Homo sapiens: one gene and its partner. The protein of the gene in region 1 interacts with the protein of each later gene in a pairwise test. Each region holds a gene or a part of one and is shown on either strand. Other genes may lie near its edges.

Region 1 (9,122 bases):
TACCATTTGACCCAGCAATCCCATTATTGGATTCTAAGTTGTTCTTATAAGTTGTTCTATCAAAGGAATATAAGTTGTTCTACCATAAAGACACATGCACAAGTATGTTCATCACAGCACTATTCACAATAGCAAAGACATGGAATCAGCATAAATGACCATCAGTGGTTGACTGGATAAAGAAAACATGGTACATATACACCATGGAATACTATGCAGCCATAAAAAAACGAGATCATGTCCTTTGCAGCAACGTGGATGGAGCTGGAGGCCATTATTCTAAAGCAAACTAACACGGGAACAGAAAACCAAATATCACCTATTCTGACTTATAAGTGGGAGCTAAACATTGAGTACACATGGAGACAAAGAAGGGAACCACAGACACCAAGGCCTACTTGAGGGTGGAGAGAGGGAGGAAGGTGAGGATCAGAAAACTACCTCTTGGGTACTATGCTTATCACCTGGGTGACAAAATAATTTGTACACTGAACCACTGCAACATGCAATTTACCTGTATAATGAACCTGCATATGTCCCCCTGAACCTAGAAAAAAAGTTTAAAAAAAAAAATTACAATGAAAATAATTGCACCTATCTAGTGATTACTGTGTGTCAGCACTCTACCAAATGCTTTGTATGTAGTAATTCTTTTAATCCTCATGACAACCCTATAAGTACTACTGTTATCTGCATTTTACATATGAAATAACAGATACACACAAGTAATTTGCCAAGATCTTAGTGTCAGCATTTCCTGTATTGTATTTACTTGAATCATTTTGAGAAAAGGAAAAGGAAAAAACACCTCAAAACACCTGGACAGTGAAAAAATAGCCTGAGTGGTTGTCTACTTGTTTTGTGTTTTTTGTTTTTTTGTTTTTTTTTTATTAGACGGAGTCTCACTCTGTTGCCAGGCTGGAGTGCAGTGGCACAATCTCGGCTTACTGCAACCTCCGCCTCCTGGGTTCAAGCAATTCTCCTGCCTCAGCCTCCTGAGTAGCTGGGACTACAGGCACACACCACCTCGCCCAGCTAATTCTTTTGTATTTTTAGTAGAAATGGGGTTTCACTATGTTGGCCAGGATGGTCTCGATCTCCTGACCTCGTGATCCATCCGCCTCAGCCTCCCAATCATTTAAGAATTCTCTAGGAAACCAGACGGGAAGTCACCCAGCCTCAGTTTAAACTCTTCCAAAAAGGATAGCACTTCCACACCAGGCAGTCCATTCCATTTTTGAATGCTCCTGATTGTTAGATCATTTTCTTTCTAATGTGAACAATTTTTCCCTTGTAATTTCTGCCTGCTGATTCTGGTTCTTCCCTCTGAAGCTATGCAGAATAGTCATTCATCATCCCATGCTAGCAGCCCTTCAAGATCTGAAGATTCTCTTGTCCCATGTGAGAATTCTGTTTGCCAGACTAAACACTGATTCTCACAGATTCAGCTCCTTTTTCTTCTTGCGCTTAGCCTTTCACCATCTCGATCAGACTTCCACAGATCTTCTCCGGTTTACAAACATGCTCTTTATACTAATAAAGAAAAAGAATGATTTTTCCGTAATTATAAAACTAACACACATTCCTCATAATGTAGAAATCATAGAAATTTGTAAGGAAAACAAATTCTTTATTTTTCCAACAGAAAAATTATGAAAATGAAGCACAGGAAAGAAGCCCTCTATATTTCCTTTATCCAGAGATAATAACCACTGTGTTAACATCTTAATATGTGTCCTCTCCAATTTTTTTAAATGTAAAGATCATATTCAACATTTTTTAAATCAATTGCTATTTTCACTTAATGAAAAGAAATATTCTTGTATTGGAGGAAAAGGAGCTCTTGTCACTTCTGGGTCAGTCCTTGCTGCCCCTACTCCTCTACCATTGACCTGATTCACAAGAGTGGTTTTCAGCCCTAAATTCCTGTTCAACTCCAAGGGTTATCACATTAGGCAGAGCTTCCCTTGAGTCAAATAAAACCCTTAGTGGATTGTGTGTGATCTGGGAATGGGCAGTTGTCCCTGGCTCAAAAACAGCAATGTGAGGTTTTATATTTGGCCTAAAGGAATCCAAGAATTTAGGGCTGCCATATCTGAATGCACCATCAAAAAGCACTGTCAAAGGCTTTTCACTGAAATGTTGATCCCCTCTACCTAAACGGTCCTATAGTTGGTTAGTGATCAGCTCCAAAACCCTTAACTGGCATGAAATTTAAGAGAAGCACGTTTTTTGTTAACTGACTATAAAATTCAACACGATATATGGCCAACTATAAACTACAAAAAGGTATTATTTGAAGCTCTATCTAGGTATAACCATGCTCCTGGCTCCTAATAACTACAACTTGCTTTCCCTTTTATTTCACGTGAATTCTTTCCTTTCACAATCACCAGATTAAGAAAACCAGGATGATCATGTGTTCTCAGAACCCCTCCTCTTAACCCCCTCTTAAAAAGCAGCCAGACAGCTTACAAAAGAGTGTCTTTCCTCTCAGTGTTAGTGATGGAACGGCTCTGGACGGTGATAACAGGATACTGGTGGTAACTCTGTTCTATCATTGCTGAGCCTCACTTCTTCAGACCAAGTGCAGGGTCCGTGGCTCCCAATTTGAATCACAAGGTATCTCAACAGCAAAATAAAACAATACAAAACAGAAAGCCCCTGGTTTTTCAGGATTACCTTCATAATGGTAAGGGTGAACGTGAGCCCTAGCATACGTTTGCACTCAGCAGCTTAATTTTCTAAACACAGATGTACTTAAAGGGACACCCTTTTTCAATATCATGATGTATCCAGGTACAACTTAGATCATGTAGGCCATACCTACAACCTAGATGCAGCCATCATGGCACTCACTTGGCAGTTTTAACAGTGACGCAAAACGATTTCCTCACATCAGCCTACTTTTTTTTTCTTTTCACAATAGGTGAGGTGAATACAAAAATTAGCCAGGTGTGGTGGCTCACACCTGTAGGTCCCAGCTACTTGGGAGGCTGAGGTGGGAGGATCACTTGAGCCTAGAGGCAGAGGTTGTAGTATGCCAAGATCACACCACAGCACTCCAGACTGGGCAACAGAGCGAGACTCTTTCTCAAAAATCAAAACAAAATAAAACAATACAAAAATAGGTGACACGGCCTAGCTCCCCTGTTACCCAGGACTGGTCTACAGACAGGGTACTTCAAAATCACCTGAGGAGCTTTCTAGAAAAACAGATTCCCAGGCTGCCTCTATATATGGACATTCTGACTCCCCAGGTCTGAGGGGGTGCAAGGGAATCTGCATTTTTTAGTTTTTCAGCTTACATTGAGAACTACTGGGCTAGCAGCACTGAAAATATAAGAAAACCAGGACTATGGATCTGGCTTACCTGATGACCAAGAGCAAGTTAGTTGCTACACTTTAATTACTTTACTCAAGTGGATTTTTTGGGACAATTATGCTAGCCACTATTTTATATAAACTTGCTTGATCTCCATTAAAAATATTAAGTATATAAACAGGTGGTAATTTTTTCTCATTTCTTCTGTTGAAAATTTAACTGGCAGGAACAGCTACTCAAAATCATCAAGATTCCTATCCTCTTTTTCATTCAGCTGACTTCTCCTTAACTTCTAGCAAGTTCTCTCAGCTCACAGGGCAAACAAACATATCCATTAAGGAAGTGCCTTGAGAATTGCTTAGGATTTCATTATATAATAGGATTTCATTATAGAATTTCATTATCAGTTCCCATTTTGTTTCTGGATTCACTTTGCTGTTGTCCGACTCTTAAAACATTTTTTTAAATAATAGTTATCTGCCAACTAAAAATGCGGGTCATGTTTATCTCGAGCTTTTCTCTAGTCACGCCTCCTAGTAGTTACTGGCTAAATTACTGAATTTGGGGTTTGATGCATAAAATCTTGTACAGTGACTTTAAAATGAAATACTGGCTCATCTATAGGGAATGTGTCCTTTTCAAAAACAAGTAAACAATTTTCTATCGCTAGAGATGGTAGCACCAATAATTTGATAATTATTCTCTTTGTTATAGAGATGTATTTTATTTACATTGAGAACTACTGGGCTAGCAGAAAGGGAGAGAGAGGGAGAGAGACATGGAGAGAGAGTGAGAGAGACAGTGAGAGAGAGGGGGAGGAAAAGAGGGAGAGAGAGAAAGGGAGACGGAGAGAGAGGGGGAAAGAGAAAGGTTTAAAATTTCATTAAAATTATTAAAACATAGCCCTCATTTGGAGTTGGCAGATAACTATCATTTTTTAAAAATGTTTAAGAATCAGAAAGCAATGAAGTGAATCCAGAAACAAATGGGAGCCTATAATGAAATCCTATCATGAAATCCTAAATTATTACATCCTAAAATGTCAATTTTTATTTTAATTTGGTTCCTTCTCTACAATTCTGTGAGTATTAAGGCTAAGGGGAGGGAGACATGATACCTTAAAGTAAGAGGGAAATATGACTTATTTATGCATTGTCTTTTATTTTAAATGATTTCCTGCAACTTTCCAGCTTTAGGTGGATGCCAGCCCAAATGATTGATTAGCATTTTCTACCGGCTCATCTTCTGGGGACGATGTAATATACGGGGGTCAGATGTTGAGAAATTGACTCATTTAGGTTTTGAATGTAACTTTTACAAACTTAGATATTAAAGCTTAGGTTGTCATTAATCAAATGCATTTAAATATTTTTCACTTGTCATGTCCCCCAAATCGTGTCTGTTGATCGTTGTCAGACAGCTAGGGAGGACGTAGAGGTCTGAGAGCTGAATGCCAGCATCCCTTCTGCAGCACCCCAAATCAGTGGGCCCAGGACTCTCCTTGCCTAGCCAGTGCGGGGTTAGCAAACTTTTTTTCTGTAAAGAGCCAGATGGTAAATATTGTAGGCTTTACGGTCTCTGTCCAACTATTCAACTCTGCCATTGTGGGGCAAAAGCAGCCATAGACCGTATGTATATAGTCCATAAATGAATGGTCATGGCTGTATTCCAATAGACTTTTGTTTACAAAAACGGGCAGGGAGTTGGATTTGGCCCATGGGCCATGCTTTGCCAACTCTCAATCTAGTGACTTCACAAGATAATACATTCCACTTATAGTCCTGAGTGTTGCTTCTTCATTCTATTCAACAATTATTACAGGTGGGGGAGGAGGGGTTATGTTAAGCCAAGCACTGTACTGGTAAAGAGAAAAAAGTAGCTCCACAGTCCATACCTCTTTCTCTTTCCCTCTCTCTCTCTTCCTGTCTCTCCCCTTCTCTCTCCCTATCTACCTACCTATCTCCCCTTCTCTTTCCCATTCTCTCCCCCTCTCTCTCCCTCCCTTTTTCTCCCACTTTCTTCCCCCTTCCTTCTCTCGCCCTCCTCCCCCAACCCTTCACCCCACCACCCCCTTCCTCTCCTCCATGTTTCTGACTGGATCCTACTGTTCTCAGGGTATAGTCCAGAGGATTTAGAAGGCCCCACAGGATACTGTCCTTGTTTTCCTCTCATGCTCCACCTCTCACCATGGCCCTTGTCTACATGCCCCAAGTTCTAGAATTCTATATCAACTCTTCTAATATAGTTCAAAATTCAACTCTATTTTCTCAGCCCCTAAGATCTGGGTAAGTTCTACTGAGATCTCAGATCTTTACTCCATGCCTTGTGGAATTCCTCCAAATTTATCCAAGTTCCCAGGACAAGGATAGGGATAGCATTTGAAAGTCTCATGGTCACTTCTGACTTTGGGTTCCTGGTTCCACTTAAAACAACACACTGACCCAGATGTGAAACTCAGTCATCCCTCATTTTTCTCTAAGGACCTTGTCCATGCAGAGCATTTGTGAGCCTGGTAAACTTCACTGAACTGTTGGGGATCAGGAAGGAGAGTCACACCATGCCATGCTACATGTAACCAAAACACCTTGTTAGCCATAACTTCCACATTCTTAAAAGGTCTTTAACCAGCTGTCGCCAAGGGTTTCTCCCTGGGTTTTCAACCAGTGCAGTCCCCAGTAGCCTCACCATCCTGCTGGCTCCTCTCATCTCCCTCTTCCCTTACTCCCCTTTCCTCTCCTCTCCCTCTTTCAAGAGCAAACAAACAAGTTTCTCCCACTGCAGAGCAGTTTAATCAGTCTGAGCTTGCTTGAGCTCCTACCACCACCCATACTTTCAGAGTCTCTGTGTCTGCAAGGGGCTTAACAGAATATTTTACCAAACAAAAGTAATTCTTCCCTAAGAGAGATTCTACACTGAAGTCAACACTGTCAGGAATTTTCCAGTCTATTAAACTCTAGGCCTTTTTACCTGCTATTCCCTTGCATGCCACAGTATTTCTTCTGTTTCCTCTAGATAACTCCTACTCATCCTTTAGAACACATCTTGTGATTTCCCGCAAGAATCCTTCCTACTGAAAGGATTCCTGTTTGTCCTGCAAAGTGCCTTATAGGTATATACCATAATACCAATCCAGGACCACTTAAATCCAAGCTTAAGTTTAGGGTAGATGCAAACTGGGGCCACAGGGGAACTGGTTAACTTCTGACTCACCTTGAACATGAGAGGGTAAGCATTTTAAGGTCCCAGCTTCTTGTGTAGATGGTCTCCTTTAGTTTCCTCACTTGGCTGATTTCCATATCCCTCACCTTAAAACAAAAATGTAAATTTGCCAGGATCAGCCCTGCCCTAAGGGCAGAAGTGGCTTCCCTGCTTGCTTACTTCACTGGGTTCCTATTTACCCTCTATGTAGCACTTATCCCTTTCTGTCTTGTCAAAAAGCTAGTTGTTTTTAAGATTTTTTTTTCTCCTCCCAGTATTTTTAGTTGTTTTCAGTGGGAAGTTTGGTCCAAATAACCTAGGCCGCCATTACTGGAAACTGAAAGTCATTAAATCCTTCCTAATTAGGAAGCAGAACTTTTGCCAGATGCATTTGCAGGTGTTTTTGTAAGGCTGTGTTCCTAACCAGAAGATTTGATTCCTCTATCACAGAAAGCAGTATAGGAAACAAATCCATCTCTTTGGCCTTACTCATTTATTCAATAGTATTATTTGAGTGCTTCCTGTGTGCCAGGCACTGGGGTAAAGGTTACAACAGTGAGCCAGTAGAATCCCTGCCCTTCACTCCTTTGTTAAGAAAAAGCAGAGTAAATCATCTGAGCTACCAGTTTCAAGATTAGATAAGCCCTACCAACCAATTTAGGAAACCGCCAGTCCACTGCATAGTACTGTTGTAAGGGGTGGGACTTGGAGACATGATTAACTTACAAGGTAACAATTGAATAGAATAGTGCTTCTAAAACTTTAGCATGCACAAGAATCACCTGGAGGGCTTCTTAAAACATTACTGCACCCCATCCCCAGAGATTCTGATTCTTAGGTTTTGAGATGGATCCTGAGCATTTGCATTTCTAAGAAGCTCTAAGGAGATGCTTATGCAACTAGTCTAGGGACCACTCTTTGAGAACCATTGTTATAGTAGCCCTAGATAAAACTTATGGGTAAGTAGCTCCTTTACAAGATTAGGAATATTCCTTTACAATACTCTCCATTTCTGAAAATCCAAAGATAATCTTTAGCCAAGACCATTTAATGAGGAAGAAGGATTTTCAACAAATAGAGCTAGAACAACTGGATATCCACATGCAAAAGAATAGATGCATGAGATCCCTTATCTCATATTGTATCCAAAATTAACTTATCCTGAATCAAAGACCTAAGCGTAAGGGCTAAACTGTAAGATACTTAGAAGAAAACATAGCGATAAATCTTTATGGCCTTGGATTTGTAACTGTGTTCTTAGATATGACTCCAAAAGCACAAGCAATAAAAGGAAAAACAGATCAAGTGAACTTCGTCAAAATTAAAAAACTTTTTTGCTTCAAGGGACACTATCAAGTAAGTAAAAAGTAATTGCACAGAACAGGAGAAAATATCTGCCTATTATCCCTGACAAGGGACTTATATGTAGGATATATAAAGAACTCTTGTAACGCAAAAATAAGACAAATAACAAAAAATGCAAAGGATCTGAATAGATATTTCTCCAATAAAGATATTGCCAATAGGTACATGGAAAAAAATGCTCAACATCATTAGTCATTGGGGAAATGCAAATCAAAACTACAATTAGATACCACTTCACATCCACTAGAATGGCAATAATTTTTTTAAATTTTAACAGAAAATAGCAAGTGTTGGCAAAGATGTGGAGATACTGGAATCCTCATACAATGTTGGTAGGAATGTAAAATGGAGCAGCTACTGTAGAAAACAGTTTGGCAGTTCCTCAACAAGTTAAACAGAATCACCATATGACCCACTTCTAATTTAATTCCCCAAAGAATTAAAAACAGGTATTCAAACCAAAACTTGAACATGAATATTCATAGCAGTATTATTCACGAGAGTTAAAAGGTGAAAATAACCCAAATGTCCATCAACTGATGAATGGTGAAACAAAACGTGATATATCTATACAGTGGAATATTACGTAGCCATTAAAAGGAATGAAGGGCTGGGCACAGTGACTCACGCCTGTAATCCTAACACTTTGGGAGGCCAAGGTAGGGGGGATCACCTGAGGTCAGGAGTTCAAAACCAACCTGGCCAACATGGCGAAACCATGTCTCTACTGAAAATACAAAAAATTAGCCAGGCGTGGTGGTGGGCACCTGTAATCCCAGCTACTCGGGAGGCTGAGACAGGAGAATCACTTGAACCCTGAGGTGAGGTAGAGGCTGCAGTGAGCCAAGATCACGCCATTGCACTCCAGCCTGGGCAACAAGAGCGAAACTCCATCTCAAAAAAACAAATAAATAAATAAATGGAATGGAGTATGGACACATACTACAAAATGGATGAACCTTGAAAACTTTATGCCAAGTCAAAGAAGCCCATCACAAAAGGCCACGTGTTACATTATTCTACTTACAGGAAATGTCCAGAATAGGCAAATCTACAGAAAGTAGATTAGTATAATAGTTGCCGAGGGAAAGAGTGAGGGTGGGGAGTATAGGGGATGATGGCTTAGCAATACAGGGTATTCTTGAGATGATGAAAATGCTGTAAAGTTGACTGTGGGGATGCTCGCACTTATCTGTGAATAAACTTTAAAGCCATTGAATTATACACTTTATTT
Region 2 (4,637 bases), on another chromosome or scaffold:
ATGACCTCGCCTGGTGGGCAGCCCAGGCATATCTGGACCCCGGGGTCCAGGGGAGGGCATCTCTTGACCCTTCGGGTAGGCACAGGGTAGGTGCGGCAGGGATGGGGCCAGTGCTCATGGTGGCCTCTCTGTGCCTCGGTGGACCTGCCCCAGCAGTGGGAGCCATAACCCCCTCCCCCTTCATTACTTCACTCAGGTGGGCACCTTCCCCTGCAGGGTGTCTGCCCTCAGGGAACTCAAGGACTCTCAGAGACACCAGGGCAGCCTGGCCCAGAGGAGCAACAGCCAGGCCCCCAGGAGGACAGCCATGGAGAGAATTGAGACCCACTTACAGTGGGGTCTGGGAACCCTGCCTTTACCTGGGGTTCAGTCCCTCCCCACTCTCTCTGTGTATCTGCCCCCCAGCAAAGGTGGGGTGACCACTTCTGGTAGCTAAGCACCTGCTCCCCGGCTCTCTTCACCCAGGACATCTGTCTCTCTGGAGTGTCTGTCTGTCTGTCCCTCCCTCTCTGAACCTGCTTCCTCCGTGTCCCCTGCTCCTCACCCCTGGGAGCCCACTCCCCCTCCTTGCAGCTCCCTCCCATCTCACTCAAGTTTCTTTGAGGACATTAAAGTGGTGGATTCACCCTGGATGACCTTGGCCTGGTCTCTGCTGGGGAAGATGTGACCTTGGGCCCCTGGACAGAGTCCGGAGGGAGTCAGGGGGGATCCTTAACCCCAACACATACACAGCCGGTCAACCTGGGCCACCCAGGCATAGAAGGCTCATGGAGGATGCCCAGGGCTCTGTGGACTCCAGAAGGAGCCACACTTCGGTCCTGGCTTTATGAGCTGTGGCCCAGCCAAGCAGGAGACTAGGGTTTGAGTGACACAGTATCCCACTTATTCATGAGGACAAGCATCATAGACCTGGTGGGAGAACCTCTCTCCCTATCATCTCCCTGCCAAGAAATGGAGCATGAGGAGGAGCCCAGGGGCCCGAGCCTGCAGTGCCCACGTGACCACGGGAAACTCACTCTGGGCCAGCGCAGGTAAGGAGCTCCAGTCCCAGACCAGCAACCTTGCAGCTGAGATGAGGGATGGACAGCAGCTCTGGGAACCAGCTTTATTTTTCTCAGGAGCCTCTCACTGGGAACCAGACAACCCCAGAGGGCATCTTTGCCTGCCCTTGGTGACAGTGTACTCCAATCTCGTCATTCATTAATGTGATGGCCAGTCACTGAGCACCTGGCAGATACTGGTTTTCCATCTTCTCACACTCAGCTCTGCCCAAGGTGGGATTTTTGTCTTTCAAGGCAGGAGCCATCGTCCCACCCAGGATGAGCCATCCTCTTCTGGGCTAGGTTAGAGTTGCCTGTTATGCCAAAGAATGGAGCTGGGCTGGAGGGAGGGGCAGGTGGTGATGGGGGAAGAGAAGCAGGGTCTCAGCCCAACCTCAGTACCAGGTCAGCTGGGGTGCCCTGTTTCATCTTGCTGGGCCGGCTCACTTTGGAGCTGGCGGATTTGTCAGGTTGGAAATTGCTTTCTTCATCTAGAACAGAGAAAGGGGGTGGAGGTGGGGGGGGATGTAGAGGAGGTTGTGAGGGGGGCTCCAGCATTTTTAGTCCCCTAAGGTTCATTTCCAGGCTGAATAGTAGAGCCTGTGCCACCCCATTGCACAGATGGGATCACTGAGGCCGAGAAGGGCAGGCTGGCCACTGGCCAGAAAACAAGGTAGGGGAGCCAGGCCCAGTGGCCAATCTGGGCCAGAAAGAGGGACTCATAAGTATCCTCTGAATCCCCCCAGGTTTGGATGGGAGCATGCTGGTGTCCCCCCACCTCCCCATCTCCCCAGCCTTCTCAGGCATGGGTCCCCTGCTTTGCTCTGCCCCCGGGACCCTGGTACCTCCACCCAGGACACGCAGCCCACAGCTCTGCCCCGCGATGTCACGAAGAGGGACTGAAGGTTCAACAGCTTAAAGAGGTTTTGTGCCTGGATGGGGGATTGTTAGGAAACACTGGAGGGTAGATGGCGCCCAGCCCACCCTCTGGCCCACTCTGCCACGCCTCTGAGCCAGGAAGAGGGGCGGGGCCTGATATGTGTGGGAGGCAACAGACCCAGGCCTGCAATGTCCAGTGTGGGCCACTGGGGGATGCCAGAGGCCACTCAAGGGTCTGGGCGGGGCTGCAAGTGGACAGGACCCAACATCCAGCACCCTCCAGCAGCACAGAGGGGGCGGGGCCATCTCCAGGTCCCCTGTCAGCCTCCGCCCTTGCCCCATCCTTGTGTCAGGCTCTGTCTCAACTGGCTACATAATTTGTCCAAGATCACACAGGCAAAATGGGGTGGACCTGAAATTGAAACGCACGTGTGCCTTGGTGCAACTCCACTGTCTTTCTCCACCCAGAGACTTCCATTTGCCAAGCCCCCCAATTCCCTCATCTCTCTGCATCATCCCCGCAACCCTGGCAGTGAGGGGCGACGGCAGGAGCTGCCCTGTCCAGGCCCAGGAGGAGCAGGAAGCAGGATAAGATGGGCGGGGCGGGGTTGGGACGGGAGGCTGGAGCCTGAGCTCCTCATCAGCTCTTGCCCTGCCCCGGGGGCTGCGTGTGTCACACTCCCCAATACTTGTTACCTGGTGCAAGGTGGTCTCTGAGAATAGCGTCAGGGTCACTGGTTCCGTGGGGCAGCCCCTGGCCAAGATGTCCTGGAGACACTGCTGGGAGTGGGGAAGAGTTATGGGTGCAGGGCCGGCCTCCCCAGGATGCCTCTCTCAGACCACCTCTCCCTCAGGAGATCAGCGGGTCCCTCCCCTCCCATCCCTGCTGACCCACCCCCGCCCCATCCCCACGCCCCTCAGGAGTAACCACCTGGTGTCCTGGAGCCCTGGAAGGAGGCTCAGCCTGGAGGGCCTGCACCAGCTGGGCCCTCTGCACGATGCCTACCAGGATCTGGGACTCTGGCAAGTAGAGAGGGAGAGGGAGGGAGGTGCATTATGAAGAAACAGGCCTGAGGGCCAAGCTTCCGGAAGACCTTGGTGGTGTCCCCATGCTCCTACCCCAGCAGCTGCCCAGGGACTGCCTTACAAGCACCCAGCCGACTCTCTTTAGACATGTCAACCACCCCAAGGGAGGGTAGCCATGATTTCCATTTTGCTGATGAGGAAACTGAGGCTCAGGTGAAGTGACTTGCTCAAGGTCACACGGTTGGTTGCTAAGTCACAGAGCCTGGATGCAGATCCTGTCTGCCTGACAGGTTCAAGAAGGAGGCAGAGGGCATCCCCTACCCCCGACTTCCTCCTCCCTTCCAGCTGGGCACCTGTGCTCTCCACCAGGGGATACTCGGTCACGTCTGTGGAGGTCACAACCTTGACCACCTCCTCCAGCGGCGTGTCCTTGGCCAGTGTGGTGATGCTGTGGTTCATGAAGTGCTCCACCCTCACATGGTGGGAGCTGCAGGCAGAGGGGCTCCCATCAGGTCCCGGAGTCGGGGATGTCAGACCCAGGCCAGCAAGGGGATCTGAGGGGAGCTTTGCTTGAACCAGGGACCCACGGCTCTGGAGTGTGAGCAGGGCTGGAGAGGTTCCTGGAATGAGGGACTCCTAGAACCCACAGTGGGAGGAAACCTGGGGACCACATTACTGATGGCCCAGTTCCAAATCCCCAACCCCCTGGTCCCCCATGTCCCCCAGACCAGCTTCACTTGGGTCTTGTCCCACCTTGGACAGAGCTGAGTGTGAGATGACGGAAAACCAGTATCTGCCAGGTGGTCAGTGACTGGCCATCCATTAATGAATAATGAGATTGGAGTACAGACCCAGCAGCCTTCCCTGGATAATTCCATTTGATTATAAAAGTGTATGTCACCCCCAAGGAAAAACTTGGAAGGTTGAAAATCACTGGTATAAACAGCCCCATTTTCCCGATGGGGAAACAGGTTCAGAGCAAGGCAGCAGCTTGTTTGTGTTTGGAGCGGGGCCTCCGATTCGGACTCTCAGAGCCTCTTTGGTCTGCTTTTCTGGCGCCAGAAGCTGCTCTGGTCCTATCTGGTTGAGTGAGGACTTCAAAGCCCATTTCCATTCTCGTTCCACCTCCTGCTCCCAAAGTCCCAGCAAGGACAGCAGGAGTGGGGAGAGGGGAGGAGACCTCTCGGATCTGGTGCTGACTCTCTGTGTCACCTGGAGCAAGACACGGCACCTCTCTGAGCTCTGGTTTCCTCAATCTGTACACGGGGCAATACTCATCCTCCTGCTGTGAAGCCCAGCTGACCCCTAGACAGACACTGAGGCCTCAAGGCCAAGGACTTGCCCAAGGTCACCCAGGGCACTGGGGAGAGTGGAGATGAGAGCACAGCTGTGTGTCAGCCCCTCCCAGCCCCCATGTCGGAGGTCAGCTGCGGTGGTGTTTCTTTTTGGAGGTGCCCTCCACCCCCAGCCAAGCCCAAACACTGTGACCCCCTTCAGTCAGCCTGAGGTGGGCACCACTCACCCGATGTTGCGGCCCAGAATCCGTGGCAGGTATGGCAGCTTCTTGACAATGATGGTGCCATCATAGAAGGAGGGCTGGCAGCTCTGTGCAATGGCGTTGGCTGCCAGCACCGCCATCAGCACGGGCAGTGCATGCACTATCTGGCCGGTCAGCTCAAAGGCCAGCAGCGC

Evidence for each region. Proteins that work in one complex are often made in the same cells at the same time.
Region 2: the proteins of SPMIP4 (region 1) and CLCNKA interact in binary tests that used the Homo sapiens proteins (3 or more experiments, as listed by UniProt).

What each region holds. Positions count from the first base shown.
Region 1 is NC_000007.14:25,169,251-25,178,372, reverse strand, and holds part of SPMIP4 (sperm-associated microtubule inner protein 4), read left to right. Parts: intron 1-741; exon of another isoform or gene 742-1,533; intron 1,534-2,475; exon of another isoform or gene 2,476-2,559; intron 2,560-9,122. UniProt on the Homo sapiens protein: Microtubule inner protein (MIP) part of the dynein-decorated doublet microtubules (DMTs) in flagellum axoneme. May serve to reinforce and thus stabilize the microtubule structure in the sperm flagella.
Region 2 is NC_000001.11:16,030,505-16,035,141, reverse strand, and holds the end of CLCNKA (chloride channel protein ClC-Ka), read right to left. Parts: coding exon 4,468-4,637; intron 3,433-4,467; coding exon 3,299-3,432; intron 2,940-3,298; coding exon 2,851-2,939; intron 2,700-2,850; coding exon 2,616-2,699; intron 1,973-2,615; coding exon 1,886-1,972; intron 1,532-1,885; coding exon 1,484-1,531; 3' UTR 1,092-1,483; downstream 1-1,091. UniProt on the Homo sapiens protein: Anion-selective channel permeable to small monovalent anions with ion selectivity for chloride > bromide > nitrate > iodide. Forms a homodimeric channel where each subunit has its own ion conduction pathway.